Homo sapiens: one gene and its partners. The protein of the gene in region 2 purifies or fractionates together with the protein of the main gene of each other region. This does not show direct contact. Each region holds a gene or a part of one and is shown on either strand. Other genes may lie near its edges. The genes, in order: YTHDF1, EMID1, KLHL25 and RSPRY1.

Region 1 (7,855 bases), on a different chromosome or scaffold from region 2:
AATTTCTCAAAAAAAAAAAAAATGACGAAGCACAGCTCGTTCTTTTGAGGAATGCTCAACAAGCATCCAGGAAATGCTTATGGCCTAAGATTCTCTATGCTCTTTCTTAATTTCCAAAGTCAAAGAGCCACTCTGCTGAGCCGGCCTGGAGGTCGAAGTGGGGTCAGGTCAGGGGCACCTGCCGCCAGGGCAAGGACAGTCAGTCTGAGGAACTAAGCAATGCTCACAGTGTGGGACGCTCACCACTTTCACTGTTTTAAGCTAAGAAGTGGCCGTTTCTAGGTTTTTTTAAAACCAAAAAATGTATCAACCCAGGACTTGGTCTGACTCTGCTGCCATAAAAGCTACTGCCATCCTAAGAAATCAGTATGTTTCTAAATTTATAGCTGGACAGCAATCTTGCAAAATGCTAACTCTACTTCACTTTCTCAACACTCAACTTGTTTATGACCTTTACAGCAATGGGGCCAAACTCTAAATGATAAAGAAAAGGTGGGTCTGTTCTTCGAAGTCCTGAGAGAACCTTGAGAAAACCGCCCGGGGGCTCTACCAGCACAGGCGCACAACCCTCTCCTCGGCACACTACTTTGTTCTTAAAACTGCACTGACTCGGCCGGGCGCAGTGGCTCACGCCTGTAATCCCAGCACTTTGGGAGGCCAAAGCGGGCGGATCACGAGGTCAGGAGATCGAGACCATCCTGGCTAACACGGTGAAACCCCATCTCTACTAAAAGCACAAAAAATTCGCTGGGCGTGGTGGCAAGGGCCTGTAGTCCCAGCTACCCGGGAGGCTGAGGCAGGAGAATTGTGTGAACCCAGGAGGCAGAGCTTGCAGTGAGCCGAGATCACACCACTACACTCCAGACTGGGCAACAGTGCAAGATTCTGTCTTAAAAAAAAAAAAAACAAAACAAAACTGCACTGACTCTTCATGGGAAACCCAGAGGGAGAAAGCATTAGACACCCAGAGTCTCAGCCTCAAGACACCTAAGACTCCAATCCTGGATGAGCCACTAGCCCAGCCCGTTAAGCACAAGGCCTAGAGCACCTTCGCAGGCAGGGAGAGCCAGCAGCGAAGTCCAGTCTGGGGACCTCCTCAAGGACCACTTCCATTTCTCTACACTGCCCAATAAGCTTAAAAGATATTTGACGCCGGGCACAGTGGCTCATTCCTATAATCCCAGCACTTTGTGAAGCCAAGGTGGGAAGACTGTTTGAGCCCAGGAGTTCAAGACCAGCCTGGGCAACATAGCAAGACACTGATTCTACAAAAAAATACAAAAATTAGCCAGGCGTGGTGGTGCACGCCTGTAGCTACTCAGGAGGCTGAGGCAGGAAGACCGCTTGAGCCCAGGAGGTCAAGGCTACAACAAGCTGTGATTAAGTCACTGCACTCCAGCCCGGCAGACGGAGAAAGACCTGTCTCAAAAACAAAAACAAAAAGCTATTTGAGGCGGGGCACGGTGGCTCACACCTGTAATCCCAGCACTTTGGGAGGCTGAGGTGGGCAGATCACTTGAGGTCAAGAGATCGAGACCAGCCTGGCCAACATGGTGAAACCCTATCTCTACTAAAAATACAAAATTTAGCTGGGTGCAGTGGTGGGCGCCTATGATCCCAGCTACTTGGGAGGCTGAGGCAGGAAAATGGCCTGAACCTCGGAGGTTGAGGTTGCAGTGAGCCAAAATTGCACTACTGCACTCCAGCCTGGCTGACGGTGAGATTGGCTCAAAAAAAAAAAAGCTATTTGAAATTCCACCAAACATTAACAAACCAGGTTCTCATTTGTCACTTTCAATAAAATGAATTAATGTTAACACTGACCCATATGGGCCCAGAGTTCTCCAGCTTGGCTAACAGTTTAGGGGAGGGTTACCAAGTTCCTTCCAATGATGCTCCACCAGCGGCTCTGTTGGACTCGCCTTGGAGCACCCAGTGGTTTGAGGAACACTTGGATCTTGCCTGCAGGCAGATGCCCACAGACCCTGCAGGCCGCTTACCAAGATGCTTAACCCATAACCCGACACACAAAAGCAGTTATCTAGATCAAGTTTTTATAATGCAAGTTGTAGGACACTAGAGTTTTAAAAACACCAACCAGGTCAGGAGTCCGCACACTTTATGAAAACCCAAGTATTACGGTATTTAAGAAGAAAAACTGTGCGCGCACACACACACAGCCAGCTTCCAGTTTAGCCAGCTAAGGACCTAAAGCTTCATTAGCAATTATCCCTGCAACTTTAGCAATTCAGTATTCATTTTATACCTAAAAGTCTGTAATCCGAGCTATTGTCTGTAATCCCAGCTACCTGGAAGGCTAAGGCAGGACAATCACTCGAACCCAGGAGGTGGAGGTTGCAGTGAGCCGAGATTGCGCCACTGCACTCCAGCCTGGGCAACAGAGCAAAACTCCATTTAAAAAAAAAAAAAAGACCTAAAACACAGAATTTCAGTAACTAATTCAGAATTCAGTAACTGGAAATAAATGACATCCACTTCTTTTCTCACAAAAGAGAGGGACTGATACTTTTCCAAAGTTCTACAAGCCCCAAGTTGTTCAGGACTTGCATAATGTAAGACTGCAGACAGTGCAGGCGGCTCTACTCTATACATCCCTATATATGCCATGTACACGCCTTTCTGCCCAAAATACATTAGGACACTTGGTGCTCACAGGTGAATAATTCCTTTAACATAGAGAACTGAAAAAAACACTGAAAACCCATCTATTATCAACTGACATTTCAGGAAGGGATATTTTTTAAAAAGCAGGAGAGAATCTCAGGATGAACTCTCTCGAATAAAGGAAGCATTATGAAGTATGTCAGCATCATCATTTTCCCATTGCTGGTGCCAGTTTACGGGCATCTGAGCCCTTCTGAAGAGCAAACACACTCAATCCCGTCAGACATCACATGACAGCACAGACTCAGGAGTTTGGCTACAAGTATCCCAGGAAATCAGGACTGTCTCAAAAAGGCCCAGTCAATGAATTTTTGATATAGGATCCATATTTGTCATTATAAAATGTCTGGATTCCAAACCTACCCCACCACCACCATTTTCTTTACGACCTAGATGGAGTGAGTTTGTTTCCAAAAACTGCAGGATACTGGGTTTTTAAAAGAAAAATAAAGCAACGACCTCCAGATCAAAGACCAGAGATTCCCAACTACTGAGGGACAGTGCCCTGGGAAGCAAGGGCCCTTGGCCAGGTGGGGTCTCGATGCCCTACGTGCCCACCGCAGTGCTTCGTGAATATCACCTAAGTGTTCCTCATGGACGGAGGCTGGGAAGCACTGTTCCAGAAAGTATCACAATTCAAAAAGGAGAGGAGAAAGTTACCCTCAAATTCTTTGTAACAGAAAAACAGAATGTGTACACTGTGGTCCCAATTATTCAATTATAATTGGAAAGTGATCAAAGTCGTTCGGTGACATCTACCCAAATACCATCACTGGTTACTAGCAGTACTCTCCGCAGGGAAAGCCCACGAGGCTGCCAGGACCTGGGCCCGCCCACCTGCGGCCAACTGGGAGCTGCCTGTCACGAGACTCAGCTCGGCGGACCTGCCGCATCTGCTCACCACCGGGCCACCTGGTCTAAGTACGGCACCAAGGACACATCTGCATGGCAGTTGCCTGCAACACCCAGCCTCACCTTGCGCACCACCTCCTCCTCCTCCTGGCGCTTCTCGTAGTGAGCAAAGTCGTCGAAGATGGAGGTTGTGTGCTTGTAGGAACTGATAATTTTCAGCACTTGCTTGGCTTTTTCTAAGGGCACCTCCTGGGTGTCCCGGGAGTTTGTGACCGGTTTGTTGTCGTTATTCTCCAGCCTGATGTGCCGGAGCTGGTTATTGGGTACATCCTTAACAAAAATCCACTGGACATCAAACTTCCCCTTCCACTTGTCCTGAGACCAGACCCCGGCACTGGTGCCGTAGTCCACGGGGGACTTCATCTCGGCCACCCCACAAAAATGCCCACTCCCATTGACGCTGAAGAGCAGGTAGACGGGCCCCTTGCTGCTCATGCAGCGGAAGGCGCTGTCCAGGCGCTTGTTGCCGTGCTCTGTGCTACACCAGATGGAGTACTTAATGGAGCGGTGGATGTCGTCCTCAGAGTAGCTCTTGATGATGAACACACGCCCGCTTTTCAGATTCCACTCAAACTCTTTCGGGTTGTAGCTGTGAGCAGCCTTCAGTTTTTCAAGGACGGGGTGGGATTCGACGCTGGGGGCAGAATTAGGCTGGACGTTTCCAGGAGAGTTGCTATCGCTGCCAGCCCCTCCGCTCTGCCCAAACGCCGCGTTTCTGTTGCGTGGGGCAACCCAGCGGGTCTGGGGTGGCTGCTGAGGGCTCTGATACTGCGGTTGAGCCAAAGCTGGGGGCTGTGCTGGGAGAGGCTGAGCCACCTGCTGGGGCTGTGGGGCAGCCTGTGGAGAGGGTGCCTGCTGGGGGACTGGGGCCTTCGGCACAGGCCCCTTGTTATCCCAGGTGCCAATGTCCATGTTATGCTTTATGGGTGGAGGGGGCAGCCCACCCCCCATGACAGGCCCGCTCTTTGTTTTCATTTTAGGCTGTGGTTTTGCAGGCTTGCTGGCAATGGCAGCCCACGAGGTCGGCTTTGAAACTGGCATGTTCACATTTGTCCCACCGTTGCCAGAAAGGACACCAGTCAGTGCCACGCTGCTGACGACAGAGCCCACCGTCTTGACGGCGGAGGAGCTGACGTCCCCAATCTTCAGGCCAACCATGCCCTGCTCCAGGCTGTTCATCCCGGGGGCCTTGCTGAGGGTGTCGCTGTGAAAGCCTGGCTGCCCATCAACCACCGTGCCACCCAGGGAGCTCGGGGGGTAGGTGTAGCTGCTCCCATACGCGGAGCTCTGGGTCTGCTGACCTTGAGACCCACTTGTCCCCCATGCTGAGAACGCAGGGTTTTCAGGGAAAAAATTGAACCTGTGCTGATAGATGTTGTTCCCCAGGCCCCCAGGCTGCCCAAAAACAGCATCGTGCATAAAATGATGGTCTCCGTTACTGAGCTGTCCGTAGGTGGTGAGGTATGGAATCGGAGGGTCCCCTGCAGTAGACCACGGAGCCTCATTGAGGGAGTAAGGAAATCCAATGGACGGCGGGTAATAGCTGGACAGGTAGGGGTCGCTCATTGAGGGGTAACTGTTACTCTGCAAAAGCAAACGTGACAAGTTACACCACTTCTACAACACGAGATGCTGAGAATGCCAACCGCCTCTTGCTTAAGCACAGGTGGAGCAAAAACAAAACCTGCACAGCATGGGGCTACTCCTTCCAGAAAGAAAGCTGTAGTCGCCAATGTGAGAACCAAATCAAGACAGAGAAATTAATAACGAACACAAACCAGGGTGCCGTCTCAAAATACGAAGCATCATTGGCAAGGCTCTGAATTCAGGCTAAATGACGAAGCTATGCCTCTCTAGAACTGGCAAGGTAGCAGCCCCCTCTACTCTTACCTGCAAAGGAATCCAGAGGTAGAGGAGTAAACCCCTGCCTGCTGACGACAACGCTTATGACAGACACGGACGGCATCATGGGAACTGAAACAGCTTTGTAAGGCAGAGATATTTCCATTGGCAAACCAGGATGTGCAGGGCCGTGAGGCAGTTTGCTCCAGAGAACAGACCCCAAGCTCGCTGATTACTCAGCAGGCCCTGGGCGCCCACCTCTGGGCCTTGACATTCCTCCTGGGACACTCTCCCATACCTGGACCAAAGCTCTCCCAGAATCCTTCAAGGGTGCTTCAGAGGCTCCTTCCACACACCCTTCCTAGCAGATGGCCCCTGCCTCTAAGTCCAAGGGGGTTCACATTCCCATGATTTCCTGGGCACAGCGTTGGGCTCTTGCAGTAGGCCCCTGCACAGAGGGCCCTGGCTGGCTCCAGCTCCTCAGCCAAGAGAAAGCATCCGAAGTGTGGACTCTGTGCTCCGGGTGCAGAGCAGCCCTCACTCTGGATGCCAACTCACCTGGGCTTCCTTATGAAAACATGTCTGTGTAGTGACTGGAACCTCAGAGAGTGGTTTTAAAGTGACGGAACCATGAGGCAAAAAGGTCTGCTAGAGAAGGTGAGTGCCTGAGTGCCCCATCGTAGGGGTCTCTGAAGAGCTGCCCAGGGCACAAATTTAGACTGAGGGTCAGCAGTTCTGGGACGGCATCTCCTTGGAGAGACTCAACTAAGGGTCTGGTCATGATTGGGTCCCTCCAACACTGCCTTAAAATGACTTTCGTGTGAGGTGTGTCTGTATGTGTGTGCGCACACACACCTGTACACAGGCCGGTGAGACGGGGTCCAGTGTGAGGTAAGAAGGCTCCCACCTAGACGCATCGTCTGAGAGTGCCAAGATGCTATTACAGAAAACAGAGCCGGAAGTAAAACACGGGGCTCTCCAGTCTGTGACGCCCGTTTTTGGATTTTTAGTTTTCCCGCTCCCCGCCCCCCAGTCCCCCAAGTAACCAGAAGGTTCTACATAAAGAGAATATGCTCCAGACCTCATCTCACAACCTCATCCCTGCCACATTGACCTTTCATGTTGGCATCAAAGGCTACACTATGAAGGATAACAGCACCCAGTCGGGGACACCAGGTGGGAAAGTAGCTGAGGCAATGAGGGAGACTGTGGGATCCCAGACAATGAAACAGGCCTGCTTCACTGGAGGGGTGACCACAAGCAGCTCTCCCTGGGGGCAGTGCCCCAACACCAGCCAACACTGGTGGACTAATGAACCAATGACCCGGCCACCACTTCCTGCCTCCTGCTCCCATCCTAGAATACTGAGGGCTTCAGAAATCCAATTTATTTTCTAATTTTCTTCCTGTTGACTTCTCCACTTGTGAGCAGACAATTCCAGAACCCCCCCCTTTTTTTTTTGGGACGAAGTCTCACTTTGTCGCCCAGGCTGCAGTGCAGTGGCACGATCTCAGCTCACTGCAACCTCCGCCTCCCAGGTTCAAGCGATTCTCATGCCTCAGCCTCCCAAGTAGCTGGGATTACAGACACCCACCACCACACCCGGTTAATTTTTGTATTTTTAGTAGAGACAGGATTTCATCATCTTTGCCAGGCTGGTCTCGAACTCCCAACCTCAGGTGATCCACCCGCCTCGGCCTCCCAAAGTGCTGGAATTACAGGCATGAGCCACAGCGCCTGGCCCCAGAATCATCTTTTAAAATGCACTAACTGCTGTTTCCCCGTAATATAAATTTGAGATTCTGGGGGTATAAGAAGACAAGTGGGATGCTATCAGTGTTCCACAAACATGAGATTAATCTGAGCTTATTCTCCCTCAAAACAGTTTCCATGATGCTGGCTCCTTTGCTGCAGCCTTTCCCTCGGGTGCTGCCCTGGCCAACAGGCCCAGACTGGGGGGGTGAGCGAATCAGGGGGGCGGTCTGTGCACAGGACTTGCTCCTCGAGTCACTGGCCGCAGGTGCCTTCAAGGACGGCAGGCAAGGGGACAGTCCCCCCCACAGGGAAGCCAGCCCTCCTCCTCCCATTAGCTGGACACGTGCTCCTCAGCAGCGCTGCAATCACAACACATCTTCCTTCCACGCAAAAAGAGCAGATGGGAAAAAAAGACCTCGATGGCTGTGTGGTATTCTAATCCACTTGGCCCCAACACCAACCAGAGGAGTCAGGCCACAGAAACAGATGCCCAGGGACACTTCTGACTTACACCTAAAGCCTTAACTAAGACAGGACATCACTTACCACATGAAAAAATCCACATTACATGAGGCATGTAACATTCCTGAAAATCCGTTTTAAGTATTAAATGGACACACCTAGCACACACGCTGCACAGACAGAGAGCCCATAAATGACC
Region 2 (7,944 bases):
GCTTCACTCAAATCCCTTAGCACAGCGCTAACAGCTATTGTTCATTCCTGTTCCGGGACTGAGGGGCTCAGGCCCAGACATGGGCCCCACACCCAGCAGCTTGGTCCAGGGGCTTCCCTGGGGATTGGGGACACCAGCACAGTACCTTCTTCACAAGGTCTTCCCCTTGGAATAGGGATTATCAGGTTCTGCATTTTACAGAGGGGGAAACAGGCTCCAAGAGAAAGCACCTACCCAGGTCACCCCTGTGGGCATCAGCTGGGATTGCAGCCCCCTAGACAGAGGCTGGGGCAGATCCCCTCCATTTTAGAGCCCTCCATTCTCCCTGATCCTAGGATTTGCCGGAAGGAAGCCGGTGCTGCAGGGGCGAGAGATCTGGGCTGGTGAAGGCTTGAACCCTCAGCTGAAACGCTGAGATGAGTGGTTAAAGGAAGCAGACTCCAGGCTTAGAAGGACCTCAGCGGGGCAGGAAGCAGCCCCAGGGGCAGGGGCAAGCCAAGGCAGCTCTGCATAGCCCTTGGGCACCCTGGTTCCGGGGGTCTCCAAGTGTCACCACCTTCCTGGGGCAAGGGGCGGCCCCCTGGATGCCTTCCCAGGCCACCCCCTCCCCAGGACAAAGCCTCTTTTCTGCGTCTGGTCCCTTGGCTGCCAAGGGGTGCCTGGGGTGCTGGGGTGTGGGTGGCAGGAAGGCTGACAGGGCATGACACCCCCATGCTGTCTCCAGCAACGTGGGGATGGGGCCACAAGTGGAGGTTCTGGTAGCCCACAGACTCCTCAAGCTCCAGGTCCCTACCCCCATGTGACATGATTGATAGCAGGAACCACTGCAGGTGAGGCCCGGTGCTGGTCCTTCCCACGAGGAAAGAAGGAAACTGAGAGCAAAACTGAGACCCATGGCCAGGAAGTGACCCACTTGAGGTCACACATCAAGCCTGTAAGAGCAAGGAATTCTGTCTCCATTCTGTCCAAGGCTGGAGCCCCTAACTCCTAATCATGACTGCAAACCTTTCCTGGTGCCCCCAAGCCGACAACCTCTTTCCCTCTTCCAGCAAGGCTGCTGGAGAGAAAAAGCCACTGGATTTGGAAATCGACTGGTCTGGACTGAGGTGCCACTTGTCCTCTGTAGGCCTCAGCCTCCGTATCTGTACAATGGGTGCAATAGTGTTGCCCACAGGGTTTTTGGGATGCTCAGGCTACTGTGATAGGCTTCTGTCAACACATGGAGTGACAGTCCCCAGTGACCACCAGATACCTGGTTATAGCCATCATCCTGTTCCCACCCAGGAGACCCTGGGAGGTGAGGAGCCCAGGCTGGGAAGCCCTGCCTTGAACTGGCTGCAGGGCGGTCTGGGCCTTAAGCTGTCGCCACCATCATCCTGAGCCTAACAGTGGGATTTCTGAGTTCATAGTCTCTGTCCTCTTAGCATCTGGGATCCTGGCGGCTCACTTCCATGCTCTGGGCAGGTCATGTTCCCTCTCTGAGCCTCATCTTCCTCCTCTATGAAACAGAATCATAAAGAGCATACCTCCAAGCAGCTGGGAGGATTCTGGAGCTGATGAATGCAGGTAACGGAGCCGACTCAGGCTAACTGTTGTCTGCACACAATAGGTGGTGGCTGTAACATCTGCCACACGTCCACCCCTGTCTCAGACAACTGCTCTTCTGGCCTCTGATGCTTCAACCACCTCCGTCCTCCAGCCCTGCCCATGTCAACTGCTCTTGCTAGCCCAGCAGGGGCATGCTGGCCCCTGACCACTGGGAAAGGAGAATTTCTGAAAAGAATTAAAGAATTGAGGCCGTAGGGGGTGGGGGCCGCGCAGGCCTTTGAATGGGATGAAAAGGCCTGGAGAGGCCTGGCTACTCCACATTGTCTGCCTTGGACAACGGCGGCTGGCCTTTAGGAGGGGACCCTCGCTGGGGCTGCAGCCAGGACAGAGGCCAGGACAGGTTCAAACACTGTCATCAAGGATAGAAGGGCAGATTTGCAACCTAGCTCTTCAGTGAATAGCCCATGAGGCTAAAAGATGATGCCAATTCCCTAGGGTCTCAGTTTGCTTAACCGTTGAATGGGGACAGTTTTCCCTACCTCATTCGGTCCTTCAAGGATTGATGAGGACACTATATATAATAATGGGCCCCACCATGTCAGGTTCTGGGAGCTCCTCCGTAAAGGCCAGCAGGGAGGAGGTTCCCCGCCGCTAGGAGAGCAGAAGGAAGACTGTGCTCCCTCTTTTCTCTGTCCAAAATGCCAGGTCCCTGGGGTATCTCCGACACTGACCCACTGGGCTGTGAGACTCCACCCCAGTCCCTCCTCCGAGGGAGATAAATAGCCTGGGTACAAAACAAACAAACAAAAAACAAAACAAAGCAAAAAAACAGGAACAGGGAAAAGGGGAGAGAGGGTCCGAGAAGAGTCGGCTAGGGGGTGTCATAGGCCTTTCCCAAGTGCAGGGGGAGGGGCCCTAGGGACAGGGGAACAGAAGGGCCAGGGCTTCGCCCTCGTTGCGCCCCTTCCCCCTCCTCTCGAGCTCCTGGGTTGAAAGGGAGGGAGTAGGGGAGGCAGCCAGCTCCGACACATGGAGTAGGGGACCCCGCACTCGCGGGAGCCTCAGCCGGACCGCGGGATGGCCGTGTCCCTGCCCTCACCCGGGCTGGGGACTGGATCGCCCTCCAATCCCAGCCCTTCCTGGAGGTGGGGGCGTGTGCGCGCCGGGACCCTCGGCCAGCGGGGTGCAAAGGCGCCGGGAGCTCTTACCTGCGTCCGGAGAACGGAGCTGCCCCGATGCTCCACGCAGCGCCGCCTCCCGGGAGCAGGAGCCCGAGGCAGAGCAGCGCCCAAGCCCGCGGGCCGCCCATGCTGCACCAGGCGCCCTCCGCGCGCGGCCCCTCGCGGTCGCCGCCCCCAGCCTGTCCTCCCCGCCTGCCTGCCCGCGCCGCCAGCCGCCCCGGACGCGCGGAGCCCGGTTTCCAGCTCCGCGGCCGGAGGGCGGGCAGGAGGCGGGCGGGCGGGGGCGGGGGCGCGCGCTCCCGGCCTCGCCCGGCCCCTCTGCGCTGCCCCCCGCCCCCTGCGCCGCCGCTGCCAACCCGGAAGGAGCCCGGAGGGGCCCGGGCGGCCAGGGCGCCCCCGCCAGGAGGCCCGCCAGGTGTCCACCTGAGCCCCACGCCCTGCGCCGCGGGGCCCTTTTGGGGGCGGGGTGCCAGCTCCGAGGTGTCCTCCCACGGGCTGTAGACTGGGAAACTGAGGCCCGGGCCACGGTCCCAGACGCAGCCGGGACCCGAACCCACCTCACCTGAGCGAATGATATCCGGGACTCATCCTTTTTCGACACCTTTGCGGGATCCAGCCCTCCAAGGAAAGCTTCCTGAGCAGTGCGCGCCACGTGTATTGGGCACCTCACCGCGGCCACTTCACATCCTATCTCAGGTGACTCTTCAAGCCACTCTGCTCGAACTGGGCACAATATCCCCATTTTACAGAAGAGAAAACTGAGGCCCAGGCACTCGCAGTCTCCCTAGGAGGAGATCTGGGCTGACCCCATAAGTGCAGAGTCTGTTCTTATTCTCATTTTACAGGTGGAGAAACTAAGCCACAGAAAGGAGCTGTCATTTACCTAAAGCACCGTGGCAGGGGTTTGGCAGAGCCAGGATTTGTACCCAGATCGCCTGACTTCGGAGAGTAACAGCTCTTAACCACAGCACTTCGGTCTATGCCTTGATTTCACCATATGTAACAAGGTAAGAATTGGTGTTGGGTGGTTTCATCTGGGGTACATGGATGGGCTTCTGGAGGAATGGCTCTACATCCCACAAAGGTATATGTAAGCGTAGTGTGTGTGTGCAGGGGTGCATGTGTGTGTCGTATGTGTGTATGATGGATGTGTGTGCATGCTTGATGTGGATTTATGTGCATGTGTGTTATGTGTGTGTCTGTGATAGGAGTGTGTGTTTATAGGGAGAGACCAGAGCTCTCATCAGAGGGGACCCAGACCCCCAATCTCCCAGGGCAGTCTCTAACCCCGCCTTCTGCCTGGATCGATGGGCAGTAGTTAGGCCTGGGCTGGGGAAGCCCTTGCCCAGCTTGGCTACTTCCTGTTATGGCTTGTCCAGACCCACGGTCCCTTCTAGAAACACTCCCCAGAAAGGATCTGCCAGTCACTGGATTGCCCCTCCTGGACTCACCAGGGGCAGGCAGCATAGGCCACCATAGGCAGGCAGGCAGGCAGGACGGGGGATCCATCACCAGTGTGTCCACATAGAGAAAGCTGTTGCCCTGTCCCAAGGGACAGGTAGTGAGAGCTGGGTTCAAACCCTGCCTCTGCTACTTCTGCTCCAGTTAGCTCAGGCAAGTCTTGCCCCTCTCGCAGCCTCAGTGTTTCTTTTGCAGGGAGGACAGTTGTACATTCGTTACAGGAGTGTGGGAAGGATTGAGATATCATGGTAATGGCCTGTCACCCACTCTCCCCTACTTCACATAGTCCCCCAAGGGCTCCCTCTCCCTCCAGCGACATCACCATGGTGCCAATGTTGCCCCCTTGGGGAGCTGTTGCCCTCCTTTTCACGTGAAATTTTGGCACATCTCCTGTGCCATCTCTCTGACCTCCAAGAAATGCAGCTTTGTACCTCTCTGGTTAGCCCTTGTTTTTGACACAGCTAGATCAGTGACTTAACACCCTGGATAATTCGTCACTCCTGAGGAGCCATGCCCCCAAGAGGATGCCAGGCCTGTCTGAAACCCCAATCAAGCGGCCCAGATAAAAACCCATCACCCCAGGGGTGCTTTGAGCTGTTTAGGAAGCTCAAACATGCAGCTGTTTAGGAAGGAGAAGCACTGGATAATGCCTTGGAGGGACTGAGAGGTGTCTAGGGTGTCAGATGGGTGCCACAGAATGAGGAGGCACTACTAGGTCTGTTTGCAACATGTCTGAGATGCTCCTGCGATTAATGGCATCCACATTTCTTAACCAATGCCATCAAACTTGTGGCAGACTCAGGCCGCTGCAGAATTTCCCCAGCAAGAGACTCTCCTGGTAAAAGCTGTTATCAACATTTTCACATCAGAGAGGGGCCTGTCCTTACTGAGGCTGGGATTCCCGGGTCCAGGGTATTTATTTATCACTGTAGACCCGGATAAATAAATATAGATTTATTTATCACTATTTATCACCTTGTGGCTGTGTGGCCTGATGGATACACCCCACAAGCCATGTGACCCATAGGCCAGGGTGTCAATTCCAGAGCAACCTCTGGGAGCTGTGTGACCCAAGACAAGTCACTTCCCCTCTCTGAGCTTCATTTCTTTGCCTGAAAAAACAAGCCATGGGATCTTCTTTTTTTTTTTTTTTTTTTTTTTTTGAGACAGGGTCTCACACTGTCACCCAGGCTGGAGTGCAGTGGTGCCATTTCCGCTCACTGCAGCCTCAACCTCCTGGGCTCAAGCGATTCTCCTGCCTCAGCCTCCTGATTAGCTAGGACTACAGGTGTATGACAGCACATCTGGCTCATTTTTAATATTTTTTGTAGACACAGGGTCTTGCTCTGTTGCTCAGGCTGGTCTCGAACTCCTGGCTTCAAGCAACCCTCCCACATAGGACTTTTAAGGTCCCTCTGGCTCAAGAGTCTGAGCTTCTGGGAAAGTGTGAAAACGTCAGGTCTCCCCTTCAGTGGCCCTGGGGCACAGCTGAAGCCCCCGTTTAAGGGCTCACTTTCCTGTTGGATGACAGCCGGCTTTCTGGTCCTCTTTCCTAGTTGAGTGGAAAGGCAGGAAATGCCGTGGGGGCCTGGGGTTTTGATTATTTGAGGTTTCAATGTTTGCTGAAACTGAGAGGAGAGGGGCCGGCTAGCTTGAGGTCTCAGGGCCTGTCCCTGCGGGCGGGGCCTCCCCCCTGGGGGCCTGGTCCTTTCCACTGCCAAGACGAGACCACAACCGCCAGTAACGACAGCAGCTTCCGTTCCCCATGCTGACTGTGCGCCAGGCGCTGTGCTAAGCGTTTTGCTTGTATTGTCTGCTGCGATCCTCTCTGCCACCCAGGAGGAAGCCTTATTGTCCCCAGGTGTGGGGCTCACGGCTAGTGAGTGATGGGCAGCTGTCTATGAGTTTACCCACCAGACCACACTGCCACCCACTGGCTGAGCCCTGAAGCAGGTCTTCTTTGGGGTAAGAGATAACTTGGCTCACATTTGGAGTCCCATCTTGGGGCTGATGAGGCCAGAGAGAATGTGTGGACACATACCCAGACCTGGACCCACACCCAGATGGACCACACAGGGACACACACAGACACCCTCCCAGGGCAGGCCATGGGATCCGGGAAACACAGCCCCTCTGGGGCAGATTCACTGACGCATCCACCCTGGCCTAGTCCAAACAGGAAATGTTTTATCCTCTTAACAAACAACCTGGGCGGCAGCCTCCTTCCCCTGTGAAGTCTCTGGGGGCCGTAGCTAAGGGACTCTTTCCTCCCGCTGTGTCCTACAGGACTGTCTCTCCAGCTTGGGTGTGCCCCGTCATATCAGCCCTGTGCACACATTAGCTCGTGTGAGCCCAGGCACTCTTCCCATATCGTGCCTGTTCCATAGGTGAGGAAGCAGCCCAAGGGGTGCCCAGAGCCCATGGCCGCAGCCCCCAGGGGCCCAGGCCTAATTGCCAAGCAGTGCCTGGACACCATGAAAGGGAAGGGACCGTGTAAGCCACAGCCTTAAAAGCTGCTGACCAGACAAAGGACAGGGCCCAAGAGCAATGGCTGCTCTCTGCACTTTTGATCAGGGGGTTTGGCCCTCCTGTCCCTGGCTCTCAGAGATGGAAGCACCCTGCAGGGCCAGGGTCGGGGCGCTGGGAGACCTAGGCAGCCTGCAGCTGCCCAGCCGAGTTATTTATGCTCCATGGAGCTGCCCTTCTCATTCACCCAGCTCATTCTTTCCCCAGAGAGCTGGGACTGGGGCTGGAAGGGAGTAGTGGGAGGAAGGAAGCTGTCAGAAAATCATAAATTAGGGCTTGGGAGGGCCTTCCTGTCCTCTGGAATCTCCCGTTTTGCATCTTTGAGGGGGGTACAGGGGGACGACAACAGAATGACAGGGCCGGACATAAGCGAGCATGGCAGGACAGGGTACCTCTTGTTGGAGTGAGGAGACCTGGATGTTCTATGTGATCTAGAGAGTCCCTTCTCTCCGAGCTTCGGTTTCTGCATCTGGAAAATGGGGGTGTGAGGACTCGGGGACTTTCCTGCAACTGTGCTTTGTTGACTGCAGGAATGGACAAATGAGAGGCTTTCTCCTTAGCAACGTTTGTTCCCCCTTCCCCTCCTCTGGCAATTTCTCCTAAATCCTCCCCTTTCTGACCCCCCACCTCTGCCCTACTTGCCTTCTCTCAGGTCCCTTCCTCTGCTTCTCTTTCATCTCCTCTTGCAAAAATGGATGAACAGTATCTCCATATGCAGCATCCACCCAACTAGGGGGTAGAGGGAAGAGCTCTTGGCTCATTCCTACTAGAGTGTGAATGACTGATGTGTTTAATGTTTAATGTTGGGAGGAGGGGGAGTTAACAGGGCTTCCTGCCATTTAAACCCTAAATCGTTGGTAGTGGAACTTCTAGGCTGGTGAGGGAAATGTTTGGTGACCACAGCCTAGGAACGTGGCCTAAGACCTTCTGTATGGGAAGCTGTCCATCTCCCACCCCAGCGAGGTGAAGCCCACTCCCGGCTGGATGCATCTGAAGTGGCAGCTGTGAGTCCATGTGGTTGGACGGATCTGGCAGGAGGGAAGGGCAGACCAGAGAAGCCCCTCAGAGCAGAGGCCCTGGAGCAGCCCACCAGCCCTGCCAGTCCCGGGTGGCACCTGCCGGGTCATGAGCATGTGGGCCCGCCCCACCTGACAGCTCCAGGATGAATGGGGAGGTAGTGGTGGTGCTGAGAAGCAGGAGGAGAATGAGAGTGGTGGGGACAGAGGAG
Region 3 (8,119 bases), on a different chromosome or scaffold from region 2:
CGCCATGTTGGCCAGGCTGGTCTTGAACTCCTGACCTCGTGATCCACCCGCCTCAGCCTCCCAAAGTGCTGGGATTACAGGTGTGAGCCACCGCACCTGGCCAGAGTGCTCTTTTCTGATGCTGATGGTCTGGGACATTGTTTATGTTCAACATGAGAGTACCAAGGCCTAGCTATGCATGCAGGCCAGCTCCTCCCTGCCAGGGGTTGCCTCTCTCTCTCTCTCTCTCTCTCTCTGTCTCTGTGTGTATGTGTATATACTTTCAGGTGGAAGTAAGTGCCTTGGAGATATGGACTAGGGTGAGGGCCTGCCAGGAGTGGGGAATGTGGCTGCTCAGGGTGGTCAGGAGGGCCTAGGTGGCAAGGTGACATGTGAGCAGAAACCAGAAGGAAGCGGGGAAGGGAAGCATGTGGCCCTCTGAGGGAGCGCAATCCTATAGAGCAACAAGGGCAAGGCCCTGAGTGGGAGTGGGCTTGGCCTGTTTGAGGCCTTGAAAAGGGATCAGTGGGTCTGGAGCAGAGCATGTCAGGGTCAGGAACAGGGAGGTGGGAGTTGAGGTGTGAGAGTGGCCCAGGCCAGACCAGGGCAGGCTTGTGGGCCGATGGTAGGACTCTGGCCTTCACTCTGAGTGAGGTGGGAGCTACTGGTGGATTTCGAGGGGTAGACAGACATAACGAAATTATCTTATAAAAAGATCCCTCTGGCTGCTGTGTTGAGAACAGATTCTATGGGAGCAGTGTGGAAGAGGGAGATGGCCTGGAGGCTGCCATAATGTCACAGAGGAGAGAAAATGACAGTGTCTCTAGACCAGCCTGGGGGTGGCAGTGGAAGTAGTAAGTACTCAGACTCAACAGGGATTTCCTGATGGATTGGACATGGGGTAGGAGAGAATGATGCCAAGTTTTATCTTACAAAAGGAAAGACTGCGTTGTCCTTTCCTGAGATGGGGAAGCCCACAGGGAGAGCAGCCATAGGAGCTCAGCGGAGACAGTTTGAGGGTAAGGTGCCCTAGACATGCACATGGAGATACCCAGTAAGCAGCTGCACCCATGGGCTTGGAGCTTATGGAGAAGGCGGGGTGGGAGCACAGAGTTGGCAGTTGCCAGTGCTTATATGAACGTAAGGCATGGGCTTGGATGAAATCACTTAGAAGGTGTAGGTAGGGAAGGGAATAGGTCTTCTTATCTCCCTATGCTCCCTACGCTCGCTTCCCGGGCGCTCCAATATTTGTAGGTCTGAGAAGTGAGGGGGAATCAGCAGAGGAGACTAAAAAGAACACCTGAGAAGGTAGAAAGGAAACCAAGAGGCCAGGCGCGGTGGCTCACGCCTGCAATCCCAGCACTTTGGGAGGCCAAGGTGGGCAGATCACCTGAAGTCGGGAGTTTGAGACCAGCCTGACCAACATGGAGAAACCCCGTCTCTACTAAAAATACAGAATTAGCCAGGCGTGATGGTGCATGCCTGGTGATCGCAGCTACTCGGGAGGCTGAGGCAGGAGAATCGCTTGAACTCGGGAGGCAGAGGTTGTGGTGAGCTGAGATTGCGCCATTGCACTCCAGCCCGGGCAACAAGAGTGAAACCCCATCTTTAAAAAAAAAAAAGAACCAAGAATTTGATCATCTATTAACGAACATATATTGAATTCTATACATCATCCCAGAATTTCTGAGACTTCAGATTCTGGGCCACCAGGAATACTAGCTAGATGGCAATGCTGGGAGGAAGGTATTGGTAAGGATTGTTGGTGGACAACAGGCATCTATTCCCTCTTCCTTGTTAACAGAACCCTGACTTTGAGGAGGTGATGTACTAACATAAAAGTCTACATTTCCCAGCTGCTCTTGCAGGTAGGAAAACTAAATTCTGTCCATAAACAAAAGTGTTGTGTGGGACTTCTGCAGTCTGCATAAATAGAGCTAACCAGGCTGGAAGACACACATCTCATGCTCTTCCGCCATTATTCCTTCCTACTGTCTGGGATATAGGTGTCAGAGTTGGAGCCCTAGCAGCCATCTTGGACTATGGGGCAACCTTGCAAATGGGAACCAAGCATTACAGATGAAGGAATAAAAATACAGTAGCCCGTGTTTCTGACAACTGTGGAGTTGCCAACAAAGGATAGCTTAACTTTAGCTTTATTTTGCATAAGCAAGAAACTTCTATCTTGTTTCAGTCACAGTTAATTTTGGGTTTTCTGTCATATGCAGTAAAAACTAATTCTAACGGATATGAGATTTATTCACAGTATTTCAAAACTGTGTAGACAACTTTGATGCAGCCCTAAGAGTTCTGAGATGAATTCATGGTCCCTGCCCTCCCAGAGCTCCCTGCACAGCAGGTGGACTAGCTAAGCAGGCCATTACAACACTGGCTGGTAAGGGCTGCGTTGACGGTAATGCTCCAGGGTCCGCAATAGATGGCAAGGCAAACTTCCGCTCTTCCTCTCATCTTCTTTCAAATCGTACCTAAATTCGATTAACTCCACACGTGTTCTTAGTCTGATTTTGTCCCATTGCTTACACTGTATTTGATTTTAATATATTCTAGTACCTAATTTAAGCCTTGGAGTTGAAGAGAGAAAAAATTATAATGTGGACCAGATTTTACTGGGCGGTTGGCACTTATAATTTTACAGCGAACCTGCATAAAATAATAAGCAACAGTTATAAACTTGCCAAGAATCAATTTTGCATGTGGAGCTTCATTCAACCAACAATTCTATAAACACTCTAGTGCTAGAAAATCGGCAGGATAAAACTACAAATGTGATCTCTGTCATTTCCTTAATGAAGTAATTACTTTGATGCTAATGTGTTGGAGCTGGTTCCTTCCGGTGGGTTGGTGGTCTCGCTGACTTCAGGAATGAAGCTGCGGACCTTCACGGTGAGTGTTACAGCTCTTAGAGGTGGCGTGAACCCAAAGAGTGAGCAGCAGAAAAATTTACCGTGGAGAGCGAAAGAACAAAGCCCCCACAGCGCCAAAGGGGACCCAAGTGGGTTGCTGCTCCTGGCTGGGGGGCGGCCAGCTTTTATTAGCTTATTTGTCCAGGCCCATGTGCTGCTGATTGGTCCATTTTACAGAGTGCTGATTGGTCCGTTTTACAAACCTCTAGCTAGCCACAGAGTGCTGATTGGTGCATTTCTACAGAGCACTAATTGGTACATTTTACAAACCTCTAGCTAGATACAGAGCGCTGATTGGTGCATTTTACAATCCTCTTGTAAGACAGAAAAGTTCTCCAAGTCCCCACTGGACCCAGAAAGTCCAGCTGGCTTCACCTCTCACTACCTTTTCTCTTCAGAAGGCACCTTAACAGTGCACTTGGCAAGCTTCTTACCTCTGGCCAATATTGTTCATAAATATCAGAACCCTGGTGCCTTAGATGTCTGCAGATCTGGGCCAAATGGAAGCACAAATCTGTACTGAGCACTTACTACATGCCAGGCCTATTCCATATGTTATCTTAATCTTTCCCATACCCCTGCAAGAAAGGTTTTAGAATCCTCTTCACCAGTAAGAACCAGACACCAGAGAGTCTGAGCCATCTGCTTCAGTCCTACCCAGCTCTTGAGGGGCAGGGCGGGGCTTCAAACCCAGAACATCAAGCTGTTTCCCAAAAATGCCTTCCCTGGTGGTATCTTCTCATCATCTCCCAGTCTTTTAACCCTGGCATATCTGTCCTGTCTAAGCAGCTTTCTACCCAGGGGCTCTATTTCCCAGGTTCCACTAGTCACAATCCTATCCCCTCTCCCAAATCTTTGTACACTTTCTTAGACCTTCCTTGCACCTCCCACCTCCACCTCCGTCAGGGTGACCTCTGCTTCCTGGGAATTTCCCCGCCCCAGGCTTGGCTCTTTCGTTCTTATCACTTTCTATGCTTTACCTTTTGTATCCTTAAGCAACCTACTTGAATTATCGATTTTCATTGGGAGGGAGAAAAGAGAGGACATTTATTGCGCACTCATTTGTCTGGGAATTTGTCTCCTTTAATCCCCCAAATAATCCGATGAGGAGTTTTTATCTGCCGCTTTACGGATGAGATTGGACACACACAGTAAGCTGAAGTAGTAGTCAGGAGGGAAAAGGACGAAGAATCACAAACCGTTCTCCCCCTCCAAGATGAGTGCATGGTGTGGGCGTCCAGGAAACGTTCCTGGAAGAAATTATTGGATGGATGGATGAATGAATGAATGAACGAACATTTAAAGGCTGGCTTACGAAAGGAGTTTAGTGAGAAATGACACAGAGAGGAGAGCTGAAATACTCCAAAAAATACAGATTTCAAGTACAGGTGGGGTTTGGAGGCTGCAGAAAGTCCCAAACATTCAAACAAGCCCAGAGTGAAAGACAGGGTTTCATTAACACTCGGGCAACTACTAGTGTGGCTCTGAAGAGTCTAAAGAGATCTACAACACTTGTGACCCGAACACAAAAGAGGCATATGCAATCTACAGTGCTCCCTCTGGAAAGCTCTAGAACACCGTCGCGTTTTGTTCCCAAACTTGGGCGGCGGGGTTGGGCAGGCGCCTGTCTCTTTAAGAATCTGGTCGAAGTCCTTTTCCTCGCCCCGCCCCGCCCCCGGTCCCCCCCCCTCCCCGCCCCCGGCCCCCCACCCCCCGGTGCCGGCGCGGCCTGGGGCCCACCCCCTTCTTTTCTGCGGCTGCACTGAAGGGTTCGGCTGCCCATCCGTCACAGAGGCGATGCCTCTGATTGGCTGCTGCTCTTCGGGCCGGGAGGCGGGGCGGGAAGGCCGGAGAAACTAGTTTGTTGGCGGCGCCTAGGCTGTATCGCAGCGAGAGCGTTTTTGCCTGTGGAGAGCCGGCCGACGGGAGCCGCGGCGGAGCCTGTTGAGCTCGCGCGGGCTGCCGGGAGTGGTCTCTGAGGCGGCGGCGGCGGCGGGGATCGTCTCCGGCAGTGAGTATCCAGGCCGGGCGGGGACGCCGTGCTCTGGCCGCAGCACCCGCGCCCCCGCTCCCTGCGCTGGGGACTCACCACCCCGGGCCGGGCCGGGACCAAGCGCTCGGAGCCCCCGCGGGACTACGTGTCCCGGGAGGGGGCCCCGCGGCTGGGGCCGGGGCCCTGGGACAATGGTGGGGAGCGGCGGCCGGCCGGCACCCCGCGGCTCCGCGAGGGAATTCGCCGAGAGCTCTGCGCGAGGGAATGAATTGTTTGGCAAATGGATGTTGCGCGCGGGAGCCGCTACTCTTTCCCCAGGGAGTGGTTGATTCATTGAGTCCGCAGACTCTTTTTTTTAAAAAATTACTATTGATCCTGGAAAGAGAGACTGCTTGTCTTTGAGGACGCGAGCGGCGATGCCCCGCGCCTTGGACGCCCAGGCCGGATGGCTGCCTGCCTGGCGCAGAGCGAGGGCCCGGGGTTCACAAGGGGAGGGTTTGCGCGGGCCTGGCCGCGGAGCCCCGAGCCGTTCACGTTCCGCCTGCCAGGGTCCCTCGTTTCGGTTTGCAGAACTGTCCAGCGGCAGAGAAAGGTCGCACTCAAAGGCACACCCACCTGTCCACCTGGGTGGCGGCCAGACTGGCAGGTCCAGAGCAAGCCCTCTAGCCTGACTCTAATTACCACACTTGCCCTGGCTCCGAGACACACCGCGCGATGTTACGCCCCCACTCCCCCTGTCTCTTTCGTAGTTGCTTTAGAAGCTTTTCTCTTGGGGGATTGTGCCCGGGAGATACCAGATACTTTTTTTGTGTTGCTGCTCTAAGCCCCCAAAGTGCATTCCCATTGTCTTTGAACAAAGAAACATCTCTCTAGAGGCCTGACCCAACGAACTGTGGGTGAGGGGGCGGACCCAGGCCCCTGCAGATTTAATCTGGACGCTCTTGGGTCCTGCTGGATCCCGGTGAATTTGACCTTGGGGAAGGCGGGCTGGACTTTGACTCTCCTCGGTAGTCAGGGCAGAGAATGCCAGGTGTCTGGACCATTTGGTTCCACTCTATCGGCCCAATAGAGAGAGGAAGGGAAGGAAGTTAGCAGTAGCACCAGGAGAGGAGGCAGGATTCCACGGTCTGTATCCTGGACCAGATTCCAGTGACCGTTATGGGGCCAAGCCCTCTGGGACCCTGGGTCCCAGTCTCCCCATTCATAGGAGGAACTGATGCTCAGTGTGCTGATCTGAGCTGTGAGGATTCCTGGCATGTTGGTGAAGGCTTGCGTGGGGGTCTGGGGAAGAGTAGGACACAAAGTCTACCCCACCTCAGGGTCCATTTGGTGTCCCAAGACCGGAGGCTCTTGGGTCCACAAGCTGTGCCTGTGAAGGTTGACGTAGTCAGTCTTTTTCCGGCCTGGCAGCTATTTCAGTTTTGAGTCATTTGTCAGGCAGTGACTCCAGGGTGGTTGATAAAAGGGAGGTAGAAATGGAAGACACCTTCATCCTGGGGTCTTGGGCTGCAGTTGGATTTATGTATGTGGTGCGGAGAGAAGAGCTATAGGCAAATTGCATGCTCCACATCGGAAGCAGGTTCTGCAGCCCGATGCCCCTTAATAGCGTTTTAAATCTGCGGGCACCCCGTGTGGGCAGAAGAGAGCAGGAAGAAAAGAGAACAATTACCCAGTGAAAGCAAGCTTGGTTCGTCCCGTCTATCACTTGGGCGGGGGCGGGGGGAAGGGTAGGATGAGTGAGAGTGTTATTTAGTGGGTGGTTTGTGACTGATTGATTGATTGATTCATTGTTTGAACAGACTTGATTGGGCACCTGCTGTGTGCCAGGCCCTGAGTTAGGTGCTGGAGACTCTTCCTTTAGTGAGCACCTAGATGAGGGAGTGCTGGCACATGGATTAGGGGCCCTGACACATCGTAGTGATAGAGGCAGCAAGAGGAGAGAAGGAGACACAGGTGGGCAAGGCTTCCTGGGGAGAGGATGCCTTGACTAAGATGAGAAAGGCATGTCATCGCCCAGATTCGAGGTGTAGGGCAGCCACCTTTGTCCTGTCGCTCACCCACACTTCTCCCAGAGGCCCAATTCATTGCCAGCCTCAAGATAGGCACAGGTTGAGGCCATGGAGAATGCAAGTGGGAGGTGGTAGAAGGTTTGCTCTCGTCCGTAGTGTCTGGCCGCACAGTCAGCAGTCCAGCGCATTTGTAGGAAGCTGGATGGCTTCTGGATGCAGCCTCTCTTCTCTGGGGGTCCTGGGAGAACCTACCCCCTGGTCCCAAAGACCAGCCCATTGTCTGAGCCCCTAGTCCCTCTGTACCACCAGGCAGTGTAGGCATAGCCTGGCCAGTGTGGGCAGAGCTGGCACAAGAAAACAGAGTGGCCAGACACAAATGAATTGGTTGATTGAGATGCTGGTTTTCATCTAATGTGGTAAATTTCATAATTTAATTGCCTCAGCCAGCCAAGGCTGTTGAAGCATTTTCCTCACCAGGAAACACTTAGTTGGAACAAGCTGGGGGTAGAGGAGGGAGGTGCAGGGGAGGAGGGAGGAGGGAGAACTTAAGCATCCACAGCTTTCAGTCACAGCATCCCAACAGGACTTATCAATCAGCAGCTATCCCCAGCTGATGGAAGTCAGCCCAGCCCCTACAGTAGGTTCCAACCCCTTTCCTTGACCACCTCATTGCCATACCAACCTAAAGCTGTCAAAAGCTGACACCTGTCATCTTCAAGGCATAATCATCCCATACTGCCTCCAGGTCCTTCTGGGGCTGTTAGAAACTGGGGAAGGGGTGCTGTGGGATTAGGTGGGGAAGCGAAGGGGTTTGGGGATAGGAAGGGCTCCCTGTTAAGTCCTTTTAACCCAGGAGCAGTGGAAAGAGCATGGGCTTTGGCACCAGACTGGGGTTCAAATGCTGTGGGTCTGTGATCAAGTTCCTTAACCTCATTGAGCTTTGTTAGCTTTTTTCAGGGGTATGGTGAAGGTTAACCACCATACTATGCAGAATCCCCTAGAATGGGGTCTGGCACCAAGTGGGTGTCAGTCATGCCGGGCTCCCCTTTCCCTTTTTTGTTTTTGTTCCCTGGGTGCAGAATTGAGGTTGGGTGCTTGTTGCTCTGCAGCTGACTTGCAGCCCTCCCCTGAGTCCCCAGTCACCTCACCCCCGCCCCCTACCTCTCTTGCCACTCTTTCTTACTGCTAAACCTTTCCTGCTTTCCTTCCAAGCC
Region 4 (7,855 bases), on a different chromosome or scaffold from region 2:
AGGTATACCAGCATACTCTATGTGGGCTTCTGCTTTTGTCAGCAAAATAACTTTTCATTTAGTAAGTATCAAAGGGAAATAAAAACTTAGCATTTTGTATAATAGTGTGTTAATCTGTAGTGAATCAGGTAAAAACAACAAATCTGAGTTATGTAGCACTGTGGGGCCTGGAGGCTAAAAAAAAAAAAAGTGTGTTTTGTCAAGAGTTTAACAAACAATTATTCTGTATTTCTTTTTTTCTGTTTTTTCTTTTTCTTTTCTTTTCTTTTTTTTTTTTTTTTGAGACAGGGTCTCATGCTGTCTCTCAGGCTAGAGTGCAGTGGTGCAATCACGGCTCACAGAAGCCTCTACCTCCCAGGCTCAGGTGATCCTCCCACATCAGCCTCCCAAGTAACTGGGACTACAGGTGCGAGCCACCACACCTGGCCAATTTTTGCACTTTTTTTAAGACAGGGTTACGCCATGTTGCCCAGGCTGGTCTCAAACTCCTGGGCACAAGCCATCCACCCACCTTGGCCTCCCAAGGTGCTAGGATTACAGGTGTGAGCCACCATGCCTGGCCTCGTGAGCTTAATTTAGTCTGTTGAGAATTGTATATGCTTTCCTTAACAATGAAGTAATTTGTTCTAATGAAGTGGGAAATCCCTTTGCATCTTTTTAAATACAGCTTTCTTTCACACTCTATATAGTTTGGAGAAAATGTTAGGAATTCTTGAAGGTAGTAATCACTATTACACTACTTAAGATTGGAAGTTATGGCTGGGCATGGTGGCTCACACCTATAATCACAACACTTTGGGCGGCCAAGGCGGGAGGATCACTTGAGCCCAGGAGTTCAAGACCAGCCTGGGCAACATGGCAAAACCCCATCTCTACAAAAAAATACAAAAATTAGCCCAGCGTGGTGGCACATGCAGATAGTCCCAGCTACTTGGGAGGCTGAGGTGGTAGAATCTCTTGAGCCTGGGAGGTTGAAGATGCAGTGAGCCACTGCATTCCAGCCTGGGTGACAGAGCAACACCCTGTCTCAAATAAATAAATAGGAAATGTTCTGTATTTTTTAGTAGGATACTTGTAAAGTGGGGTGTGATAGTCTCAGGATTGCAAAATAAGTGGAAAGTCAGTAGTCACCACAAATGGGAAACACAGTGGAACCAGCAATCTATTTCAAAAGAATTATTTGGGGATAATAAACTATGGATTTAGCTTCTCTTCAAGCTTTTGGCATTTTCAAGGCAGTTATCATTGAATTTGGGTAGTTTTTTCCCTGATATTCAAATTAGAAAATTGAAAAGCAGAATAATCACGAAGTAGTAAATGCCGTAACTTGGGCAACAGCCTTTTGGAGGGGACTTTTACAACTTTTAGAAGTGCAAAGGAGTGAATATTTCCCTTTGGTTTATCATTCAGTAAGTCAGCTTTTGAAATCCTTTTCTTGCCAACCTTTGTGAGTAGAGAAAACATACAAATGTGTCCATTCCAAAAGGGAGTGGTTGCTGGTTAAATATGTAAAAGTAGTAACTTTAGATAAATGTGTGGTATATACAAGGTTAAATCAGGAAAAGTTATCTTATAAATAGTGGTGGCCTCTTAGAGAACATTCCGCTTTGTTTCTGAGCTTTTGAAAACTGAGAATACATTTGAAATAGTAAGGAATTTATGTACTCCTTAAATTTGTTAAGGAATGAACTCTGCACATAGCTTTCTTGTTGCTTGAAATTATAGTTTCCAGGCGTAATTTCATAGGTCCTATGTACCTCAAATAGAAGGTTTGAAATACCTTACTCAGCAAGTATATTACCTCATAGTTTAATGTTCAGTGTTAGTTTTTTCTTACCCCTCTACCTCCTGAAGAATTGTTTTCGCTCTTGTGTTCCCTTAATGCAGTGATTCTCAAGATGTGGTTTCTGCCCAGTCCCTCCACATGGGAAATATAGCACTGTTTGTTTGTTTTTTTAAGTTTTTATTGCTTCATAGTTGTTCATACTTAGGTATGCCTAAGGGCTACTTATTAATAACCTACCAAGTGAATTACTAAGGATTACTAAAACATGGTATTCATAACCTAAAACTAGAACAATATTGGAGTTTACTGTGGTCTCTTAATACTTTTTTCGCCCAGGAAGTCTGTCCTGGGAAACCTGGCACCAATACAAGCTTCTCACATGTCATATGCAGAATGGGGATTCCTGCAGTATTCAGGAAGTATGCTTAGTTTGGGGTGCATCATCTGAATTGTCTCAAAATAATGTCAGTTTTCATCATGATTCCTCTTTTTTTATTAGAATTTTTATTTAACTTCATCTTTATCAATTTAATTTATAGGTTTTTTTGTTTACTTTTCATTGTGTGGGCAGGAATATTTATACCAACAATATTTTGGCTTATAATGTAAGACATAAATGTGTTACAATGCAAAGATAGATTCTCTAGTCCCCTTTTGCTATTGCTGATTTGTATAGTCACCTAAAAACTTGCTCACACAGAGGTACTTCAGTGTTACCAAAGTTCCTTTTACACTGGAAAACTGATGGAACAAGAGGCCTCCTTCTAGTAGATGCTTTATCTGTAGTCTTTGGGTAGGGAGCTAAGTTTGTCCCTAACCCCAGCTCCCTTTGTCAGGAGCATGAGGGACCTTTTTCCGTCTTTCCTCACTGCCTGCCATATAAGCATTGGATATATAGTTATTGAATGGTGTTGTCTCAGTTTTTCAAAATGGTAAATATTTTGGAGAGACTTTATGTTACAGATTTTAGAATAAATTCACCTAAGATATTTATTGAATACATATTAGGGTCTAATAAGTATCCAAATGAGTATGCAGTATGAGTGTTTTAGACATCATTTAAAGTAGACATCATTAAGGAAAATGTTGATATTCATGCTGCTTATATATTTTATTTGCTTTTCTTAAGAGCAGAGAGTTTTCTGTAATAGAAAAATCCTTTTCCTTCAGATTTGTGTATATTTGAATAACACATGATCTCCTATTATTTGGCCTCCTGGGGGGAAAACCACAAGTACTACGGAATATTACATTTGTTTTTCTTCCCTGTACTGCAACCGTCATAAGCATTTACCTCAATTCTTCCTTAGTATTTTTTGGGAGTCCAAGGCAAATTTTTCAATCCTTAAGATTTCAGGCAGGGATTATTTACTTCCCCTTTTTTACTATTATTTGCTTCCGGAAATTCCTTACTCTATCCTAGGCCTAAATTTTATTTTTTAGTAAATTATTTGAATGCTGAAAGGATTTGTCTTTTCTCCTTTGTACCATTTTAGGTCAGGACTATATTCTGTAATTCTTTCTGACCACAGATGCACTGCTACTAGGTTAAAAAAGCTCTCAACTTTTTAGAGGAAGGTTTTTCCAGAGACTCTTTTTTTTTTTTTTTTTTTTAAGGTCTCACTCTGTCTCCTAGGCTGAAGTGCAGTGGTGCGATCATGGTTTACTGCAGCCTCGACCTCCCCAGCTCAGGCGATCCTCCCACCCCTCACTCCCACTGCCCTTCCCAGTAGCTGGACTATAGGGTCCAAGCCGCCACTCTGGCTAATTTGTGTATTTTTTGTAGAAACAGGGTTTCGCCATGTTGCCCAGGCTGGTCTCAAATTCTTGGGCTCAAGCTGTCTGCCTGCCTTGGCCTCCCAGAGTGTTGGGATTACAGGTGTGAGCCACCATGCCCTGCTCAGATAGTCTTTCAACCAGAAAAAAATACCTACTTTCAAAGGTGTGCTTTCTTAAAGATCCTCAGTGCATAAGGGAAATGTCAGAATCATCCAGTGCTTTTCCCAGACTTCTTGACAGTTACAGTTCAGGAGTTAATGGTACTCTGTGTGACCTAAACCTACGGTTAGATAGCTTTGGACATCTGGGAGGCAAGTAAAAACGCCTCATCAAGACAACCTTTCTTTTTGTGGGAAAAGTAAAATTCCAACCAAATATTTCACAATCTACCCCCTTCTTACCTTCCCCAATGAAATACCAGAGGCTTTAGAGTCTAAAGACAGAAACACTCTTGTTGAAACATCTTTAGGTAGTTTCTGTTTCAGCTGGCAAGTGTAATCTTCATGCATTACCAAATCAGTATTGTTGACTTGAGATTTTCCCTATTTAAACACAATCTTCAGTAAGAAGATTGTGGTCTTTGGGGTGTTCTGCAGGCTTTTTTTTTTTTTTCTTTGGAGACAGAGTCTTGCTCTGTCACCCAGGCTTGAGGGTAGTGGGATGATCTCGGCTCACTGCAACCTCCACCTTCTGGATTCAAGTGATCTTCCCACCTCAGCCTCCCAAGTAGCTGGAATTACAGGCACACGCCACTGTGCCTGGCTAATTTTTGTATTTTTTTAAGCAAATATGTTTCTAGATAATGTTCTCTATCTTGATAGGGTTTGAGTCACAGGTATATGCATTTGATAAAACTCAGCACGTTACTGTGCTTAAGATTTGCACATTTCAGCCGGGTGCGGTGGCTCACGCCTGTAATCCCAGCACTTTGGGAGGCCGAGGTGGACAGATCATTTGAGGTCAGGAGTTTGAGACCAGCCTAGCCCACATGGTGAAACCCCATCTCTACTGAAAACACAAACATTAGCTGGGTGTGGTGGCATGTGCCAATAATCCCAGCTACTCAGGAGGCTGAGGCAGGAGAATTACTTGAACCCGGGAGACAGAGTTTGTGGTAAACTGGGATCACACCAGTGCACTCCATCCTGGGCAACAGAATGAGATTCCGTTTAAAAAAAAAAAAGATTTGCACATTTCAGTGTATGTAAATTCGACTCCTAAAAACTTGAAGTTTATTGAAGTCTAATTAGTGATATGCATGCTGAATTATTTAAGAGAAAGTATACTGATGCCTATAGTTTACTTTGAAATATGTAAAAAAAACTGAATGGATTAATGATGGATAAGAGATGGATAGCGATAAAGCAAGTTTAGTAAAATGTTAGTAGTAGAGTCTAGGTGGTGGGGATAAAGCAAGTTTAGTAAAATGTTAGTAGTAGAATCTAGGTGGTGGGTATATAGTTCACAGTTTACAGTGAACTCTAATTCAATTTTCTGTATGTTTGGAAAATTTCATAATAAAATATTGGGAGTGGGGAGTAAATGTGATGATAGAAGCTATCTCTTTAACACACTTAGGGAAAAATCCGAAAACATTTTCTAATGAGAGAACATCATTAAAATTTTCAGGATGTTACACATTTTGCTATTCATGCTATTTGACTTAGCCTTTGTGGGGGAGGGTTGGAAAAAAAGTCACATCCTCTAACACTATTTTGGAATGATAAGGTGAAGATTATAACAATAGTAATTTAGTGCCCAAAGTCTGGTTTTTCTTCTTTATGGTCACTCTTGTAATCAGCTTTTCCTTCCTAGGCAGTGTAATTCTGCAGTCCTATTTTCAAAGAAAAGAAAGTGTTCTTTCTCACTGATCTGTACTATGGCTGAATGCAAGCAAATATTTGAAGAGATGAATCATTGATTCCTGGACCATTTGTCAGAGAGGGTTAGACTAGTTGGCCAGATGTCTCCATGGTGAGCTGTTTATGATGGTAGAGGTCTGTGTTTTATAAAGACAGTGAGTACCAGAACCTTACTGCTTTAACACCAAGCTTACCAAGACCCTAAGTTTGATTATTTTTTTTTGTCTCAGAGCAGCTTTAAAAAAATATAAAGCGTTAGGTGCTTCATTTACCCCCAAGAAAAATGAAAAAACATGTAAAATGTAAAAATCTAATAAATAATATAGAAATGGAGAGAATAGTCTTTAGTTTCTTTTTTAAAAAGGCAAGAATCAAAATTAATAATACCACACTTCAGAGAAATAGATTTGCAAAGGAAATATTCGATCATAATTATGCTCTTGCAGCAAAATTGTTATCGAGAGTATAATATTAGGCTGGGCATGGTGGCTCACACCTGTAATCCCAGCACTTTGGGAGGCCGAGGTGGGCAGATCACCTGAGATCAGGAGTTCAAGACCAGCCTGGTGAACATGGTGAAACCCCATCTCTACTAAATGTACAAAAATGAGCCAGGCGTGGTGGCAGGCACCTGTAATCCCAGCTATTCGGGTGGCCGAGGCAGGAGAATCGCCTGAACCGGGGAGATGGAGGTTGCAGTGAGCCAAGATCACACCATTACACTCCAGTCTGGGCAATGAGAGTGGAACTCCGTCTGAAAAAATAAAAATAAAAAAGTATAATCATATTAAAAGTATTGCCACTTAGGTGGTAAGAAGAGTCCTTCTACTAAGCACTGGCATCCAGTGATAAAAATTATTAAATCAGTTGATGTTTGTCACAGATGTGTATTTAAATTGTGTGACTAGCTTTTTTTTTTTTTGTCTCAAAGTTGACTTCACCAGCTAATGTTGTCTTTGAAGTTAAGGTAAAGAATATAGGTATTGGCCAGGCACGGTGGCTCACACCTGTAATCCCAGCACTTTGGGAGGCTGAAGTGGGTGGATCATGAGGTCAGGAGTTCAAGACCAGCCTGGCCAACATATTGAAACCCCGTCTTTACTAAAAATACAAAAAATTAGCTGAGCGTGGTGGCACGCACCTGTAGTCCTGGCTACTCGGGAGGCTGAGGTAGGCGAATCACTTGAACCCAGGAGATAGAGGTTGCAGTGAGCCGAGATCTCACCACTGGACTCCAGCCTGGCGACAGAGTGAGACTTCATCTCAAAAAAAAAAAAAAATATATATATATATATATAGGTATTACAGATGTGTTGCCTTTATATAATCTCATCTTACTCATTTTCTATTCCGTTCAGTCTCTTAACCCTTGATGATATCCTTAAGCAGCGTATCATTTAGGTTCATTTTGATGCTTCGTAAGATGGACCTCATGGGAAATATATGGAGCCATTTTTTCCTTTGTGTTGATATGTACTGTACATGTCACTTATGGATATAACCATTCTAATGGCTTTTTAGGCTGACCTCTCCAAAAGACTGCATTCAAAGATAGTCTCAGTTCATTTTACTGGACAAGGAAATTAACATTTTTGACCCAAGAAGAAATGCCCTTTAGTATTTCAGTTTGCCCCCTAGTTCAGTCGGTGTGTCCTTCCTGCTGTGCCAGGTTCTGTGGTAGGTTCTATACACAGTGATTTCCAAATGTGGCTGCCATCAGAGTCACTTGGGGAGCTTTTAAGAAAACACAAGCTTGGGCCGGCATCCCAGAAATTCTGATTCTGGCTATTCGTAGTGGGACCAGGGATTTGCATTTTAATAAGTACTCTAAGTGATTCTAATGCCGTCTATGGGATGATCAAGCTACAATCCCTCCCAAGATTCTCTGTCTGAAAATATAGGTAAGTATAGGTTATAGAAAAGTAAAAATTACTTCAGTACGGGGTAGTTCTGTAAAAGATAAATTCTTTACTTTTCTTAGTGCTTTTAACTCAAGTTTTACTCCAGAATCCCTCTCCCCCAGGTAATTTAGTTATTTCTGATTAGATATGTGCTCATTTTGTAACATCTTGCATTTTTTTGATCCAGTTTAAATGTTAGGCACTGTGCCATGCGTATTACATGCATTATTTCATTTAATCCCCACAGTGGTACTGTGAGATAAGAACTGTTACTATGTCTGTTTTTTAACATGTGTCAAGAGTCAGGTTAATTAGGACGTGTATCAGTAAATATTGCAGGGCTGGGACTTTCACCTAGTCTGACAACAGAGTGTGTACTGTGCTATGGTGGCTTCTGGTATTGTGTGTAAAATCTGTAAGCTCAGTTTTATTGTCTTAAAGCAGTGGTCCTTGGAAAGTGGGCCACGTAAAGCTTTTTTTGAATGGATGAAACAAAAAATTGTCTAAAGTGTAATTGATTAGCTTTC

What was found.
Region 1: the proteins of EMID1 (region 2) and YTHDF1 purify together in Homo sapiens (affinity purification with mass spectrometry; 3 studies listed by BioGRID and IntAct, with this or other methods). This does not show direct contact.
Region 3: the proteins of EMID1 (region 2) and KLHL25 purify together in Homo sapiens (affinity purification with mass spectrometry; 4 studies listed by BioGRID and IntAct, with this or other methods). This does not show direct contact.
Region 4: the proteins of EMID1 (region 2) and RSPRY1 purify together in Homo sapiens (co-immunoprecipitation; 2 studies listed by BioGRID and IntAct, with this or other methods). This does not show direct contact.

The regions. Positions count from the first base shown.
Region 1 is NC_000020.11:63,198,627-63,206,481, forward strand, and holds part of YTHDF1 (YTH domain-containing family protein 1), read right to left. Parts: intron 5,182-7,855; coding exon 3,661-5,181; intron 1-3,660.
Region 2 is NC_000022.11:29,200,952-29,208,895, reverse strand, and holds the start of EMID1 (EMI domain-containing protein 1 isoform 1 precursor), read right to left. Parts: upstream 3,001-7,944; 5' UTR 2,858-3,000; coding exon 2,757-2,857; intron 1-2,756.
Region 3 is NC_000015.10:85,791,561-85,799,679, reverse strand, and holds the start of KLHL25 (kelch-like protein 25), read left to right. Parts: upstream 1-4,754; 5' UTR 4,755-4,914; intron 4,915-4,996; exon of another isoform or gene 4,997-8,119. UniProt on the Homo sapiens protein: Substrate-specific adapter of a BCR (BTB-CUL3-RBX1) E3 ubiquitin ligase complex involved in various processes, such as translation homeostasis and lipid synthesis.
Region 4 is NC_000016.10:57,189,329-57,197,183, forward strand, and holds part of RSPRY1 (RING finger and SPRY domain-containing protein 1 isoform 1 precursor), read left to right. Parts: intron 1-6,730; exon of another isoform or gene 6,731-7,328; intron 7,329-7,855.